Regions from separate parts of the Homo sapiens genome. Here region 2 is linked to region 1. A link means that fine-mapping ties the variant in region 1 to the expression of a gene that starts in the linked region. Tissue or cell type: tibial nerve. Region 1 holds a variant in brackets; the other region holds the start of a gene. All regions are shown on one strand. Distances are from middle to middle.

Region 1 (8,157 bases):
TAATTTCTTTTTGTATTTTTAGTAGAGACGGGGTTTTACCGTGTTAGCCAGGATGGTCTCAATCTCCTGACCTCGTGATCCGCCCGCCTCAGCCTCCCAAAGTGCTGGGATTACAGGTGTGAGCCACCGTGCCCGGCGACAATTTTATTTTAAGCTGCAATAAGCCTACTCTTCCCACCAGAAGCTTTCTGCCTTTACCCTACTGTTTTTCCCCACATCACTTATTTATTGTGATGTTCATTTATTTATGTTTATTAGTGTCTCCTTACACATCTGTATCCCTTCTGTTATGAAACATAACTGCCTGGAACAGTGTATGTCCCATAAAAGAGCTAAATAAATATTTCCTGGATTTATTAAGGTGGGCAAGGCTGACATGTTTTTATGTGACAGGTAAAAATACAGACTCAGAGAGACAATGGGGAGACTTGCCCAAGATTGTGCAGTTAATAAGTGTTCAAAAAATAAATAAAAGAAGAATTTCCAAAATATCATAGTTTGTTTAAATCTTATTGTTTCATCTTGATACTAAATAAGAGCCTACCTGATCTGCATGTTTTTACTCTAGATTAATATGCCTGAATAACATGTTCTAGAAGTTCTATTTTACTGTCTTTAACAATTAAATTTATGAAAGAAGATATTGATGTAGGTAGAAAAGTTTCAGACAAATCTGAATAGTGTTATGCCTCAAATACATTTGCATATTTATTTTTTGCACTATAATATAAATTGCTTATTTTTGAGAAAGTGACAATTGTTTCATGATTTAACTTTCTATTCATCAAAGTTTCCACAGGGATGGAAATAATAAACAAATTAGTATTACTCATTTGCGATCTGTGCTCATAAACCGTATGTGAGGATCATGCATCTGTTAAGATTCTGCTTTTATGATGCCTTTTTTTTATATCCAAGATTAAAGTAAAAAGCAAATGAAGATTTTAAATATGTTGGCCATATGCAAAAATGTATTTCAAATTGCTCATTAAAATTTTTCTCTACCCATATGAAAAAACTTGATTTAATCTACTTTACAGTTATTGCAAGACAAAATGAAAAATAAAAAAATTTTCTTTTGTTAAATTAAGCCAACGATAGCAAACATTAAAAAAAAAGATAACATAACAAAATCAAATACTTGGGGTCTAAGATAATAAAAACACCAAAAGAATATTGGCTTTGCTGGCAAGACATGAGCATCACCCTCTGAAACTGCAGTAAAAATGACTTAAATATAAACAAGTACCAAAGTCTAAGAAACACTCATCCAGGAAGCTAATTTTTATATTCTTGCTTTTGCATTTCTAATAATGACATGAATTTGATCCATGAGACTCTGAATTTGGAGAACGAGGAGTCACATAATTGTCTTCCAGAGGTTCCAAAGCTGGCATTCTGTAATGTTCATGTTCATAACAGCTCCGTGTCTATACTTACAATTTTAGTCTTAGCATGAATTTGAGTCACATTTATGAAGTTCTGTCTTTGAGCCAGACTTTGCATGACACATTATGAGCAAATAGCAAAACATCCTTGCCTCAAAAACTCAAACTTTTGTGAAAACAGATATAGAAACAATTAGCTGCAAAGTAAAGCAATGTGAGGTTCAAGGGGCTTTCAGAGCACAAAAGAAGAGTGGATCATTTCTGACTTGAGAACCAGGGTAAGGCACTAGTAATGAAGACACATTTGAGCTAAAACAATTGTTTAATTCCAATCATTGGCATTTCATCAGATGCAGCCTAATTTTCTATATGAATATGATTAATAACAAGTTTTCCATTACAATCATGGGACTTTTTGCCTCACACAAATGAAAACAGATGTAGAGCCAAAGAAATGTGAATATTTTAACAAAGTTTTTTTTTTTTAATCAAGTATGTAATTACTGGCCCATGCAAAAGTGGGAATAAGATGGTTCTCTTAGTTGTGCAGAAGTGTGAAAGTCTCAGTCATGCCACAGTCGGGGAAATGTTGACTCAGGTTATTGCACAGAAGCTGTTACAGTTTTTCACTTTGCTAACTTATGTGGAATTTGTTTTCAACTCAAATCCATTTTGGATATTTTTTAATAGGAAACAGGTCTTTAATAATTTGGGAATTGTACTAAAGAGTTCATGTTTTTTTCTAAAGGCAAAAAGGGACACTAAATCTTAAGCAGAAAAGTAAATTTGCTTTTCAGAAAAGTCAATCTAGAGGCAAAGTGAAGGGCAGGTTGAAAAGTAGAAATGTGGCTGACTCTCTTTTCGGACTCAGCCCACCTGCACCCAGGTGAAACAAACAGCCATGTTGCTCACACAAAGCCTGTTTGGTGGTCTCTTCACACGGACGCGCATGAAATTTAGTGGATCAGGGGACCTCCCTTAGGAGATCAATCCCCTGTCCTCCTGCTCTTTGCTCCGTGAGAAAGATCCACCTATGACCTCAGGTCCTCAGACCGACCTGCCCAAGAAACATCTCACCAATTTCAAATCTGGTAAGCAGCCTCTTTTTACTCTCTTCTCCAACTTCCCTCACTATCCCTCAACCTCTTTCTCCTTTCAATCTTGGTGCCACACTTCAATTTCTCCCTTCTCTTAATTTCAATTCCTTTCATTTTCCGGTAGAGACAAAGGAGACAGGTTTTATCTGTGGACCCAAAACTCCGGCGCCGGTCACGGACTGGGAAGGCAGCCTTCCCTTGGTGTTTAATCAATGCAGGGCGCCTCTCTGATTATTCACCCACGTTTCAAAGGTGTCAGACCACGCAGGGATGCCTGCCTTGGTCCTCCACCCTTAGCGGCAAGTCCCGCTTTTCTGGGGGAGGGGCAAGTACCCCTCAACCCCTTCTCCTTCACCCTTAGCGGCAAGTCCCACTTTTCTAGGGGGCAAGAACACCCAATCCCTTATTTCCACACCCCAACCTCTTATCTCTGTGCCCCAATCCCTTATTTCCGTGCCCCAACCCCCCTTCCTGCTTTTCTGGAGGGTAAGAACCCCCAAAACCCTTCCCTCCGTGTCTCTACACTCTCTTTTCTGTGGGTTTGCCTCCTTCACTATGGGCAACCTTCCACCCTCCATTCCTCCTTCTTCTCCCTTAGCCTGTGTTCTCAAGAACTTAAAACCTCTTCAACTCACACCTGACCTAAAACGTAAATGCCTTATTTTCTTCTGCAATGCCGCTTGACCCCAATACAAACTCGACAGCACTTTCAATTTTTCCATCCTACAAGATCTAAATAATTCTTGTCGTAAAATGGGCAAATGGTCTGAGGTGCCTGACATCCAGGCATTCTTTTACACATCAGTCCCTTCCTAGTCTCTGTGCCCAGTGCAACTCGTCCCAAATCTTCCTTCTTTCCCTCCCGCCTGTCCCCTCAGTCCCAACCCCAAGCGTCGCTGAGTCTTTCTAATCTTCCTTTTCTACAGACCCATCTGACCTCTCCCCTCCTCGCCAGGCCGAGCTAGGTCCCAATGCTTCCTCAGCCTCTGCTCCTCCACCCTATAATCTTTTTATCGCCTCCCCTCCTCACACCTGGTCCGGCTTACAGTTTCCTTCCGTGACTAGCCCTCCCCCACCTGCCCAGCAATTTATTCTTAAAAAGGTGGCTGGAGCTAAATGCATAGTCAAGGTTAATGCTCCTTTTTCTTTATCCCAAATCAGATAGCATTTAGGCTGTTTTTCATCAAATATAAAAATCCAGCCCAGTTCATGGCTCATTTGGCAGCAACCCTGAGACGCTTTACAGCCCTAGACCCTAAAAGGTCAAAAGGCCATCTTATTCTCAATATACATTTTATTACCCAATCTGCTCCAGATATTAAATAAAACTCCAAAAATTAGAATCTGGCCCTCAAACCCCACAACAGGGCTTAATTAACCTCAACTTCAAGGTGTACAATAATA[G/C]AAAAAAGTTGCAATTCCTTGCCTCCACTGTGAGACAAACCCCAGCCACATCTCCAGCACACAAGAACTTCCAAACACCTGAACTGCAGCAGCCAGGCGTTCCTCCAGAACCTCCTCCCCCAGGAGCTTGCTACACGTGCCGGAAATCTGGCCACTGGGCCAAGGAATGCCCGCAGCCCAGGATTCCTCCTAAGCCGCGTCCCATCTGTGTGAGACCCCACTGAAAATCGAACTGTTCAACTCACCTGGCAGCCACTCCCAGAGCCCCTGGAACTCTGGCCCAAGGCTCTCTGACTGACTCCTTCCCAGATCTTCTTGGCTTAGTGGCTGAAGACTGACACTGCCCAATCGCCTCGGAAGCCCCCTAACCCATCACGGACGCCGAGCTTTAGGTAACTCTCACAGTGGAAAGTAAGCCCGTCCCCTTCTAAATCAATACCCCTTCTAAATCAATACGGAGGCTACCCACTCCATATTACCTTCTTTTCAATGGCCTGTTTCCCTTGCCTCCATAACTGTTGTGGGTATTGACGGCCAGGCTTCTAAACCTCTTAAAACTCCCCAACTCTGGTGCCAACTTAGACAATACTCTTTTAAGCACTCCTTTTTAGTTATCCCCACCTGCCCAGTTCCCTTATTAGGCTGAGACACTTTAACTAAATTATCTGCTTCCCTGACTATTCCTGGACTATAGCTATATCTCATTGCTGCCCTTCTCCCCAATCCAAAGCCTCCTTTGCGTCCTCCTCTTGTATCCCCCCACCTTAACACACAAGTATAAGATACCTCTACTCCCTCCTTGGCGACCGATCATGCACCCCTTACCATCTCATTAAAACCTAATCACCCTTACCCTGCTCAATGTCAAGATCCCATCCCACAGCAGGCTTTAAAAGGATTAAAGCCTGTTATCACTCGCCTGCTATAGCATGGCCTTTTAAAGCCTATAAACTCTCCTTACCATTCCCCCATTTCACCTGTCCTAAAACCAGACAAGGCTTACAAGTTAGTTCAGAATCTGCGCCTTATCAACCAAATTGTTTTGCCTATCCACCCCATGGTGCCAAACCCATATACTCTCCCATCCTCAATACCTCCCTCTACTACCCATTATTCTGTTCTGGATCTCAAATATGCTTTTTTTTTACTATTCCTTTGCACCCTTCATCCCAGCCTCTCTTTGCTTTCACTTAGACTGACCCTGACACCCATTAGGCTCAGCAAATTACCTCGGCTGTACTGCTGCAAGGCTTCACAGACAGCCCCCATTACTTCAGTCAAGCCAAAATTTCATCCTCATCTGTTACCTATCTCAGCATAATTCTCATAAAAACACACGTGCTCTCCCTGCTGATCATGTCCGATTAATCTCCCAAACCTCAATCCCTTACAGAACAACAACTCCTTTCCTTCCTAGGCATGGTTAGTGCGGTCAGAATTCTTACACAAGAGCCAGGACCGCACCCTGTAGCCTTTCTGTCCAAACAACTTGACCTTACTGTTTTAGCCTAGCCCTCATGTCTGCGTGCAGTGGCTGCAGCTGCTTTAGTATTTTTAGAGGCCCTAAAAATCACAAAACTATGCTCAACTCACTCTCTACATTTCTCATAACTTCCAAAATCTATTTTCTTCCTCATACCTGATGCATATACTTTCTGCTCCCCGGCTCCTTCAGCTGTACTCACTCTTTGTTAAGTCCCAAAATTACCATTGTTCCTGGCCCGGACTTCAATCTGGCCTCCCGCATTATTCCTGATACCACATCTGACCTCCATGACTGTATCTCTCTGATCCACCTGACATTCACCCCATTTCCCCATATTTCCTTCTTTCCTGTTCCTCACCCTGATCACCCTTGATTTATTGATGGCAGTTCCACCAGGCCTAATCGCCACACACCAGCGAAGGCAGGCTATACTATAGTACAAGCCACTAGCCCACCTCTTAAAACCTCTCATTTTCTTTCCATCGTAGAAATCTATCCTCAAGGAAATAACTTTTCAGTGTTCCATCTGCTGTTCTATCTGCTATTCTACTACTCCTCAAGGATTATTCAGGCCCCCTCCCTTCCCTACACATCAAGCTCGAGGATTTGCCTCAGCCCAGGACTGGCAAATTAGCTTTACTCAACATGCCCTGAGTCACAAAAACTAAAATACCTCTTAGTCTAAGTAGACACTTTCACTAGATAAGTAGAGGCCTTTCCTACAGGGTCTGAGAAGGCCACCACAGTCATTTCTTCCCCTCTGTCAGACATAATTCCTCAGTTTAGCCTTCCCACCTCTATAGAGTCTGATAACAGACCAGCCTTTATTAGTCAAATCAGCCAAGCATTTTTTCAGGCTCTTGGTATTCAGTGACAGACTAATGGTCTATTAAAAACACACCTCACCAAGCTCAGCCACCAACTTAAAAAGGACTGGACAATACTTTTACCACTTTCCCTTCTCAGAAGTCAGACCTGTCCTCAGAATCCTACAAGGTACAGCCCATTTAAGCTCCTGTGTATACGCTCCTTTTTATTAGGCCCCAGTCTCATTCCAGACACCAGACCAACTTAGACTGTGCCCCAAAAAACTTGTCATCCCTACTATTTTCTGTCTGGTCATACTCCTATTCTCCGTTCTCAACTACTCATGCATGCCCTGCTCTTGTTTACACTGCCAGTTTACACTGTTTCTCCAAGCCATTACAGCTGATATCTCCTCGTGCTATCCCCAAACTGCCACTCTTAACTCCTGAAGTAAATAAATAATCTTTGCTGGCAGGACTATGCTGAATCTCCTTAGGCACTCTAATCAGATGTCCTAGGTCCTCCCAATTCTTAGATCTTTTCCATTTAGTTTTTCAATTCATACAAAACTGTATCCAGGCCATCACCAATAATTCTACACGACAAATGTTTCTTCTAACAACCCCACAATATCACCCCTTACCACAAAATCTTCCTTCAGCTTAATCTCTCCCACTTTAGGTTCCCACGCTGCCCCTAATCCCGCTTGAAGCAGCCCTGAGAAACATCGCCCATTCTCTCTCCATACCACCCCCCAAAAATTTTCGCCACCCCAAGACTTCAACACTATTTTGTTTTATTTTTCTTATTAATATAAGAAGGCAGGAATGTCAGGCCTCTGAGCCCAAGCTAAGCCATCGCATCCCCTGTGACTTGCACGTATATGCCCAGATGGCCTGAAGTAACTGAAGAATCACAAAAGAAGTAAAAAGGCCCTGCCCCGCCTTAACTGATGACATTCCACCATTGTGATTTGTTCCTGCCCCACCTTAACTGAGTGATTAACCCTGTGAATTTCCTTCTCCTGGCTCAGAAGCTCCCCCACTGAGCACCTTGTGACCCCCCCACCCCTGCCCACCAGAGAACAACCCCCTTTGACTGTAATTTTCTATTGCCTTCCCAAATCCTATAAAACGGCCCCACCCCTATCTCCCTTCCCTGACTCTCTTTTCGGACTCAGCCCACCTGCACCCAGGTGAAATAAACAGCCATGTTGCTCACAAAAAAGAAAAGAAAAGAAAAGAAAAGTAGAAATGCAATCAGTCAGAATATGATTTCAGAAATCCAGAAGAAAAATGTTGTGCATATGAATCCAATGACAGAGAGAAGAAAGGAGATGGATTTGAGAGATTTTTAAGGTATAGAATTGGCAAGATTTAGTTACAGATCCAAAATAGAGAGTGACAGAGAGAACCACATTTTTCTGATTTGGGTAATAAAATGTATGGAGTTTCCAATAACAGAAAATACTGGGAAAAAAAGATAATCAGATCTGAGGAAAAGGAGGGAAACATTTAAGTAATTATGTAACAAACCAAGTGAAAATATCTCGTATCAGATATGAAAGTTATTATGTATAATACATCTTAAGAAATTCTGGCTCAAACATATAAGGAAGAGGTTGAAGTTCTTAGAATGAAAATCTTAATTCTCAATGTAAACTTTGAGCAAATACATTAATAGAGATTGTGAACTTTCTGCAACTGGTAATAAGAAAAGATAAAATCAACTTTTTGAAAAAAGCAACATCCAGCATTAAACACTAGGGGGGAAGCATAGGATGCACAGAAATTACAAGTTAAAACAGAAAGTAAAAATTCTGGTCTAGATTAGCATATGGATTATGCAGAATAAGACAGAAGATTCTGCAGGAAATAAACTGTGAAATCTCAAAATTAACAGAATGACACCTCTCATGAATAGAGAAGCAAGAATTTTCAACAAATATTAGCCAGTCAAATCCAGCAAAATGTAA
Region 2 (8,157 bases), 41 kb after region 1:
TTAAGGTTACTTAAAATTGCAAAAGCTATTCACTTGCTGAAGATTGTCAAAAATCACTGAATTTTATAGCTTTAAGAGAGAATCTTACAGATCAAGAAGTCCCAAGCCTGTATTTTTCCAGATATAATCATTTAAACAATCCTAACCTTTGTGAGGAAAGTATAGGAGGCCAGGCAAGGTAGACAGAGCTTGAGGCCTTGGCAGTTGCTTCCTTTTGATCTCTAGGGGAAGGGGGTGGGGGTTAATATGTATTCATTAATTAATACCAACATTGTATTGAAAAAATTGCAATTAGTCAATGATAATGGGTTCTTCTGAACATTTTACATGACAAACAAATATTCTTAAGTTTAATTTCAAAAAGACGTGGAGTTTCTTTCTATTTTTTTTTTTAAGATGGGCCTTGCTCTGTGCCCTCAAACTCCAGTCTACAATCTCAAACTCCTGGGCTCAAGAAATCCTCTTGTAGTAGCTAGGACTACAGGCATCTCTCACTACACCTGGCTAGTTTTTTTTTTATTTTTTGTAGAGACTGGGTCTCACTATGTCTCCCTCCTCAGCCACCCAGAGAGCTGGGATTATAGGTGTAAGCCACTGTGCCAGGCCTAGCCCTGGAGTTTCTAATACATTGGTGATACAACTCTGAGATTTCTAAGCATGGATTTGTAAATGAAGAGCTGGAGCTTAATTTTTCTAATTCACACAGCACTGTTTCAACATTGTCTTATTCAGTGGTTCTCAGCCTGGGAAAGAAGGAGAAAGGTGATTTTGCCCCCCAGAGGACATTTGGCAACATTTGGAAACATTTTGGTTGTCATGACTGGGAGTGTTATAGGTATCTAGTGGATAGATGCCAAGGATGTTGCTAAACATCCTACAATGCACTGGACAGTCTCTCAAGGAAAAATGATCTGGCCCAAAATGCCAACAGGGTTGAGATTGAGAAACTCTGGTCTAATCTGAACACTCTGAATATTATTAAAACATATGGTGAGATCAAGAATTTATTACTGCATTTTCGTTAATACCAATTTGCTCAAAGGCAGTTTGAAAAACAGACCCTGACTAAAATTGCATGTGCGTTATACAGGGAAAAAAATATGACACATTTGTGATTTGAAAAGGAAAAAAAGCTGAAGGGAAAAAATTAGATATTTTTATTCATAAGAGCATTGCCATACAATTTTCAATGCTCCAGAAAAATAACCTTCTTCCATTGACACTGTGCTGAAAGAAGTGAGTAACAAAATGGTTATAAACTATCCTTCTCACAAATTCTAATCTATTATCAGACTGTTATTTCTAAAATATATTAATACACCATCTAAAAAACAGCCCTCTTATCAGAAGCTATGATACATAATAAGTCAGAAGATAAATGCACCAGTAGGAATTTATTATAATTTTTTTAATTTCTCTGGATTACAGGGCACGTAAACTCTGTAGGAGGTGCTTATTGGAGAGTAATTCTGTGATCCAGAAGACACTAGAATGTGTTCAGCCATTTAGCACCCACCCACCCCCTTTCTTTTCCCTTTCCTGGTAAATTTTCCTTTATGTTCATAAGGACAGATGCCATTGCTGTGGGAATCACTCTGGTTTAAGCCTCTTGAGAAAAACAGTAGCTAACTATATTAGTCCGTTCTCACACTGCTATAAAGAAATACCTGAGACTGGGTAATCTATAAAGAAAAGAGGTTTAGTTGGCTCACAGTTCCACTAGCTGTACAGGAAGCATTATGATGGCATCTGCTCAGCTTCTGGGGAGGCCTCAGGAAACTTACAATCATGGCGGAAGGTAAACAGGGAGTATCACCTCACGTGGCCACAGAAGGAGCCAAAGAAAGGTGAGGGGGAGGTGCCACACACTTTTGAAGGACGAGATCTAATGAGAACTCACTCACTATACAGTACCAACTGCGGGGTCGGGGGGCAGGGGTGGCAGTGGGGGTGGTTGCTAAACCATTCCTAAGAACTCTGCCCCCATGATCTAATCTCTACCTCCCACCAAGCCCCACCTCCAACACTGGGGATTACAGTTCCACATGAGATTCGGGCAGGGACACAAATCCAAGCCATATCACTAACCTTATCTAAATACTGGCCAATAGGATAAGCAAAATCATTTTTATAGCTTCCTTCAAAAAATCTTATGTATTAAAATGTTGAAATGTATAAGAATTTCATCAAAATAAGAACCTCACCAGATCTGACCCAAGGGAGAGAAGATTGTTCAATAAAAAATTACAAATGGATGAATAAATGAATCCTCTCCTTTCAAGTTCTGTGCTCCATACAACAAATCTAGATGGGTCTCATTTAGATGGGATTTAGAGACACCTTTCTTAAATACCTATCATTTTACGAATGAAGCTGTTGTCTAAAGAGTCCTCTTGGCCACTTCCTGAAAACAAATCAATTATTTGTGATAACTCTCAAATGTCCTAATAATCCCATGGAAAATGTAAATGTAATGAGGACCAAGAATTATAAGGTAAGAAGTGCTAATGTCAGATTTTTACCCACTACATAAGCCCACTCTTGTACTAGGGCAGTGACTTTCTTCTTTGGGTGAGACCTTGAAATCTGGGATTATAATTTTGAATTATAATTATAAAATGGTATTTGGCTGTAAATTATCTCCTTTTTTTTTCTGTTCCTCACAGTTGATATTATGGATTCCCATAAGGATTCATGTCTTCTATTCACTTTAATGAACAGTTGTTGGGCAACAATTCTAGAAGAGTTCCAATTCTCATCAGGAGAATGGACAAGGTGGAGAAGCAGAGAAAATGCAATGAGTAGAATGTCTAAGTCATCACTTTGGAATTGACTGAACATAAATAAAAATGAGAAAGATACGTAAAAAAGAAGGGAATGGGTAAGCAGGGTGATGTCTGGGAGAGGAGGGGCTCCATAGCCATGAGAGTCAACTCTGTAACACCCTATAGGGTTACAACACTGCCCTTCATATACTGAGGTAGCAGCAGGGAAACTTTTTAATTATTAGAAATATTGAACTTTGCCTCCCACCCCCAAACATTTTTCTCATTCAGTTCCTGTTCTTTTTTATTTCTGTAATTTTTACTGTTTCAAAAATGATCTTTTTTCTTTCGGAAGAAGCAATTCTTCAAATCCAGTTCACATAAGGGGATTTGATATGTTCAACAAGCTCCAAATACACTGTATCCAGCAATACCTACTACATGCCTACTTTGAGCTCTGAGCAACCTGCACCTCAAGCCTAGTTCTCATTGTTTTGCTTTTGGCAAATTTTCACTAAGTGCCCTTCCTCCCCAAACACACGTATATGTCTACCAGACCCTAAAGCCCTTTATGAACATGCAAACTCCTCCCTTCTGAAAACCTTTGCGTGAGTGGTCAGCAGGCTAATTCATCCATTGCAATGTGGCTTTGTGTTAGGGTTCTGTTTCCGTGCTGCCTGCAAGATAATCACAGATGTGACTGCATCTTAGAAGTTCCTGAATCTTTCAAGACAGTCTGGTTCACAAGAAAATTAAAAGGTGGAGGTCGGGCGCGGTGGCTCACGCCTGCAATCCCAGCACTTTGGGAGGCCGAGGCGGGCGGATCACCTGAGGTTGGGAGTTCGAAACCAGCCTGACCAACATGGGGAAACCCCGTCTCTGCTAAAAATACAAAATTAGCCAGGCGTGGTGGTGCATGCCTGTAATCCCAGCTACTCGGGAGGCTGAGGCAGGAGAATCGCTTGAACCCGGGAGGCAGAGGTTGCGATGAGCCGAGATCGTGCCATTGCACTCCAGCCTGGGCAACAAGAGCGAAACTCTGCCACACACACACAAACACACACACACACACACACACGGTGTAGTTTAGGAAGTAAAAAAAAAAAAAAAAAAAAAATCAGATCTCCCCTCACACCTCAGATCTGAAGGCACAAACTCTAGGGCCAGGGCGTTCGCCTACCCAACTCCACATGCACTTGCAGGTCACCTAGCACTCAGGTACCTAGCACTCAGGTACATTGTGGCTCCTTACCTCTCACGACAGCAGCAACAACGTTGATTGGAAGTTTATCACTGTGTGTTACGGGCCATGGGCCATGTGTGTTAGAATTTTATGTGAAATTAACATTTAATTCTCACGGACACCCCTGAAACAGATGCCACAGCCCCCATTTTGCCAACGAGGCAGCTGAGGTTCCCAGAGGCTCAATACCAGCACCATGAGCCGCAGCACGCAAGGCAAACACAGCCGGAGGTGAGCACATACCTGCTTCGCACCCCATGCGCCTAACCACAAGGTTCCCTCCCTCCAGGAAGGCCGTTGTCTTCCCTGGGACGACTTGCCAGCTCTGAGGCATGACAGTACGGGCCCCCAGAAGGGTGACCAGGAGGCCCTCCTCGTCCCAGCTGCCGGCGTCGCCGCCCACTGCAGGGCCCGGGCTGTGACTCGTGGGGACGGTTCCCTGCGCCCCGGCGGGGGAGGTGGGCGGGGAGGGGCGGCGGGGCGCCGGGGCGGGGCTCGGGACGGCCGGGCTGGGAGCTGGAGCCCACAGCGGGAAGCGGCCGCCGCCCGGGCCTCGCAGGGCTAGGCGAGGCGAGGGGGGGCGGGGCCGGGCGCTACGGGAAGGGGAGGCCGCGCGGACCGGGAGCCGCACCGCGCCAGCCGGGCTGCAGCGGCCGCGCACCAAGGCTGCGATGGGGCTGGAGACGGAGAAGGCGGACGTACAGCTCTTCATGGACGACGACTCCTACAGCCACCACAGCGGCCTCGAGTACGCCGACCCCGAGAAGTTCGCGGACTCGGACCAGGACCGGGATCCCCACCGGCTCAACTCGCATCTCAAGGTGAAGCCCGGGGCGGGCGGGCCCAAGTCCCCGCTGAGGCCGGGAGGTGCGGGCGCCCCTCAGCCCCGCCCTAACCCGTCCCACCATTGCTACCGGGTCGGCCCCGCAGGGTCTGAGACCCGCACCCTTCCCCGGTCCCACCCGTCACCAGGCCGCCCGCGTAGCCAGGAATTCTTAGCCAGGTTCCTGTGCGCCCACCGTGACCCTAAGAGAAGAGGCGGACGCCCTGGCACGTCCTTCCCTCCTGCTTCCCCCGCCCAAAGCGCTCCCGGTTCCCGGGGCGTCAGGTTGGCTGACAGTTCGGGGTCCCTGCGTCCTGTCTCCTCAGCTGGGCTTCGAGGATGTGATCGCAGAGCCGGTGACTACGCACTCCTTTGACAAAGTGTGGATCTGCAGCCATGCCCTCTTTGAAATCAGCAAATACGTAATGTACAAGTTCCTGACGGTGTTCCTGGCCATTCCCCTGGCCTTCATTGCGGGAATTCTCTTTGCCACCCTCAGCTGTCTGCACATCTGGTGAGACGGGGCACACCGGGTGGACCGGCTTTCTGAAACATGGGCATATTCTCCGCCACCTGCCCCCTACTCTCCTCTTATCCCAGGCCGGCGTCAGGAGGAGGAACGCGCATCAGTTCCCAAGCAGTAGGAAGAACTGGAAGGCCTTGAAAGGCAATGCGCTTCCTTTAGAATAACAGTTTGGGCTTGGAGTTTCAACAGGAGAAAGAATGTCGGTCTTTCCTGGGGTGTGATTTTCCTTGCATACATAAGGCTGGGCTGAGTGTGGAGGCGGGTACCTGGAAGCCACACTTCTTACCACAGGCTGCTCTCGGGGCCCTGTTGTGACTCGTACCTGCGGTTCTGGGCAGGACTCTTCTTTCTTTCATTGCCTTTTATTCAGTCACTGCCTGTGCTTGGGGTAAAACAAAAGTGATCTCTGAGCAGAATGCCGCTGACAGTAGAATTGGATGAGGATGTCAGACCTGGTTAAGCAGTAGTGTGGAGGGGCTGCTTCAACTTTGCCCCTGGCAGATGGCAAGGATGGGACCCAGAGGAAAGGGAGGTGTGTGCAGTTAAGGCGAGGGTCCCCCCCAGTACAAACGAATGAAAACTCCAGCTGCGGGATAATGAATGAGAAGGCCTCCAAATTACTTTTTCACTGATGAAACACAAATGGAAGTGGCATATAATTAAAGGGGAAAGAAATATGGAAGCCCACTGTATATTGATAGGATATTTTGAGTAACTCTATTCATACTCAAAATGTGTCCTAAACTGTAGAGAACTTTCTTAAGCATCTTTTAAATTTTTTATGGAAAATGTCATATTTTACCAATAAATGTTGTTGTGTTAGAAAATATCCACTTTAATCTGAGAGGAAGAATATTCAGATCATCCCCAGTATCACAACAGTTGTCACGCTAGTGCTTCAGGTTAGTCCTGGTGAAAGGTATAACCCAAGGTACCTCCGTGTCTTTCTTACACCTTTTATGATATTGCCACACCCTGATAAATACTCGGTGTTCATTGTTAGAAGTTACCAATTTATCCTTTATTTCTCTATACCACCTGAATCTTAATTTATTTAGTCAGTTAGCTAGCTAGTTAGTTCAACAAACTTTAAATTGATTGAGTGCTTAGTTTGTGCTGGGCACTGGGCCAGGATGAATGAGAGATAGGGTCTGCCTTCAGCTTACTCACAGCCTTATCAGGGCAGCTGGCTAGGTACAGAGATGGACGCTGAGAAAACACAGTCAACTGACAAAGAGGGAGGAACAGACAAGGCTTTGAAGAGTGAAAGGAGTCGAAAAAGACTTTGAAAGGATAAATGAAAATTCACCAAATACGTAAAGGATACACAAAGAACACCAATTTAATTTTATCACTAAAGGTTGTAAACAATTAAACTATGTTGAAGGTGCCAAGATTGCCAGGGAAATGAAAATGTTGCCTTAGTACATGATCAGCTTCATGAAGGTCAAATGGATAGTTATATTCTGACATTTGCACTTGAATTTTTTTTAAGATCCCTGAGTTGGCACATAAGATTTGGGATTCCCAATTAACTAAAACTAATCATCTAACCTCTATGTCAGTTTTCTCACTTTCAAAACTGTGAAAAACTGAGTGACCGCATAGCATATTGTGAAATGCTGACTATGAAGCTATTTGGAAATGTGAAGTACCATATTTATAGTCAACAAAGCTAGGCTTCCCAAAGCTTTTGTGAAAGAATTTGAAAAAAAAAAGTTTCTCATTTACTAAGTGGTGGAAAGATATAAGTAAAACTACAATTAACCAAGCAATGCCTCTCTCCAGCTGGCTCTTCTGAGAATGGGAGGTGTTTTTGTATAGTGCTTCAATTGGTGAATCATCAATGCACCTTTTTTTAGCCACATAAAATGTATTATTTAATATTATTTAACTTCAGCTTGTTTTTTTAACTATATTTATGTGGGGCATTAATATTTAACTGTAAAACATTTGTCACCAGGCAGCTGTGATTGCAAGTAGAGGAGTAATTTCAAACAAGAATGCTTAAAAGTTAGCTATGCCTTGATAAAATAGGTTTATCATTAATAGATTGCATTCCCATGACATGATAAGACCAGATCAAGGACAGACCTTACAGAATTGCAAACCCATTTGGGCAAGCTTTTTTTGTTTTGTTTTCTTTTTATATATATTTTTTAAAGCAGGGGCTTGTGTATTGTTTTTACCAAAAAGTTAGTGGTGACCAAAGCTAGGAAAATATGCAGTAGTGGAACTTTGAACCATGTCACAATATTAAAACAGGTCAGATTTTAGATCCTTTAAACAAACAATCAACAACAATAAAACACAGAAGTCTGGTGGTGTTGGATCCTAGACCAGAAGTACGGGCCATTAGGAATCAGTGAATTAGTTGGATTCCATACTACAGTCAGACAGAGATAGCTGCTGTTTGTTAAGCACAGGTTATTGGTCATAAGTGGATCATAACCAAAGAAATGTGGCTGGAGCACCCATATCCCTTATTTTTGCTGGAATGCAAAGCAAACAAATGCCCAACTGATGGAAATGCGATAGTAGCAATCTCATTTCTAGAAGACAGTTTTCATACAGTAAATTGCTATGAATGCAGTCTGCATGACTCTACAATTACTACAACACTAAATAAAAGTCTCTATCCTATGGCCTTATTATCCAAGGATATATATTATCCAAGGAATATATAACCTTACATATATTAATATATATAATATATATATATTATAAGATTTACTTAAGAAGTATTGGCCACATTCAGCCTCAACCAAATTTTGGGTCAATCAGAACTGCCTGGAGTTTC

Which allele goes with the higher level. Positions count from the first base shown, and alleles are read on the strand shown. Sizes are in standard deviations (SD) of each study's normalised expression.
In carriers of allele C in region 1, the expression in tibial nerve of the gene that starts at base 4,414 in region 2 tends to be higher than with G alone (small effect, 0.29 SD a copy in GTEx).

The links. PIP is the estimated chance that this variant, and not a neighbour inherited with it, causes the effect.
Region 2: it holds the start of CAV2-DT, and the variant in region 1 is fine-mapped to the expression of CAV2-DT in tibial nerve (GTEx, PIP 0.97).

Annotation. Positions count from the first base shown.
Region 1 is chr7:116,453,733-116,461,889 of GRCh38, forward strand. The region is part of intron 1 of CAV2-DT (CAV2 divergent transcript); the gene reads right to left. Among named protein-coding and RNA genes, the nearest start is that of CAV2-DT, 42 kb to the right of the region's middle. The variant G/C (reference allele first, on the strand shown) is at 3,890.
Region 2 is chr7:116,495,103-116,503,259 of GRCh38, forward strand. CAV2-DT (CAV2 divergent transcript) reads right to left here and starts at 4,414. Exons shown (of 3, transcript NR_188012.1): 1 at 4,252-4,414. It overlaps CAV2 (caveolin 2), which reads left to right and starts at 4,636. Exons shown (of 3, transcript NM_001233.5): 1 at 4,636-4,829; 2 at 5,158-5,345. The coding sequence starts at 4,680. RefSeq lists enhancers at 3,651-4,152, 4,199-4,338 and silencers at 4,519-4,608, 6,393-6,687.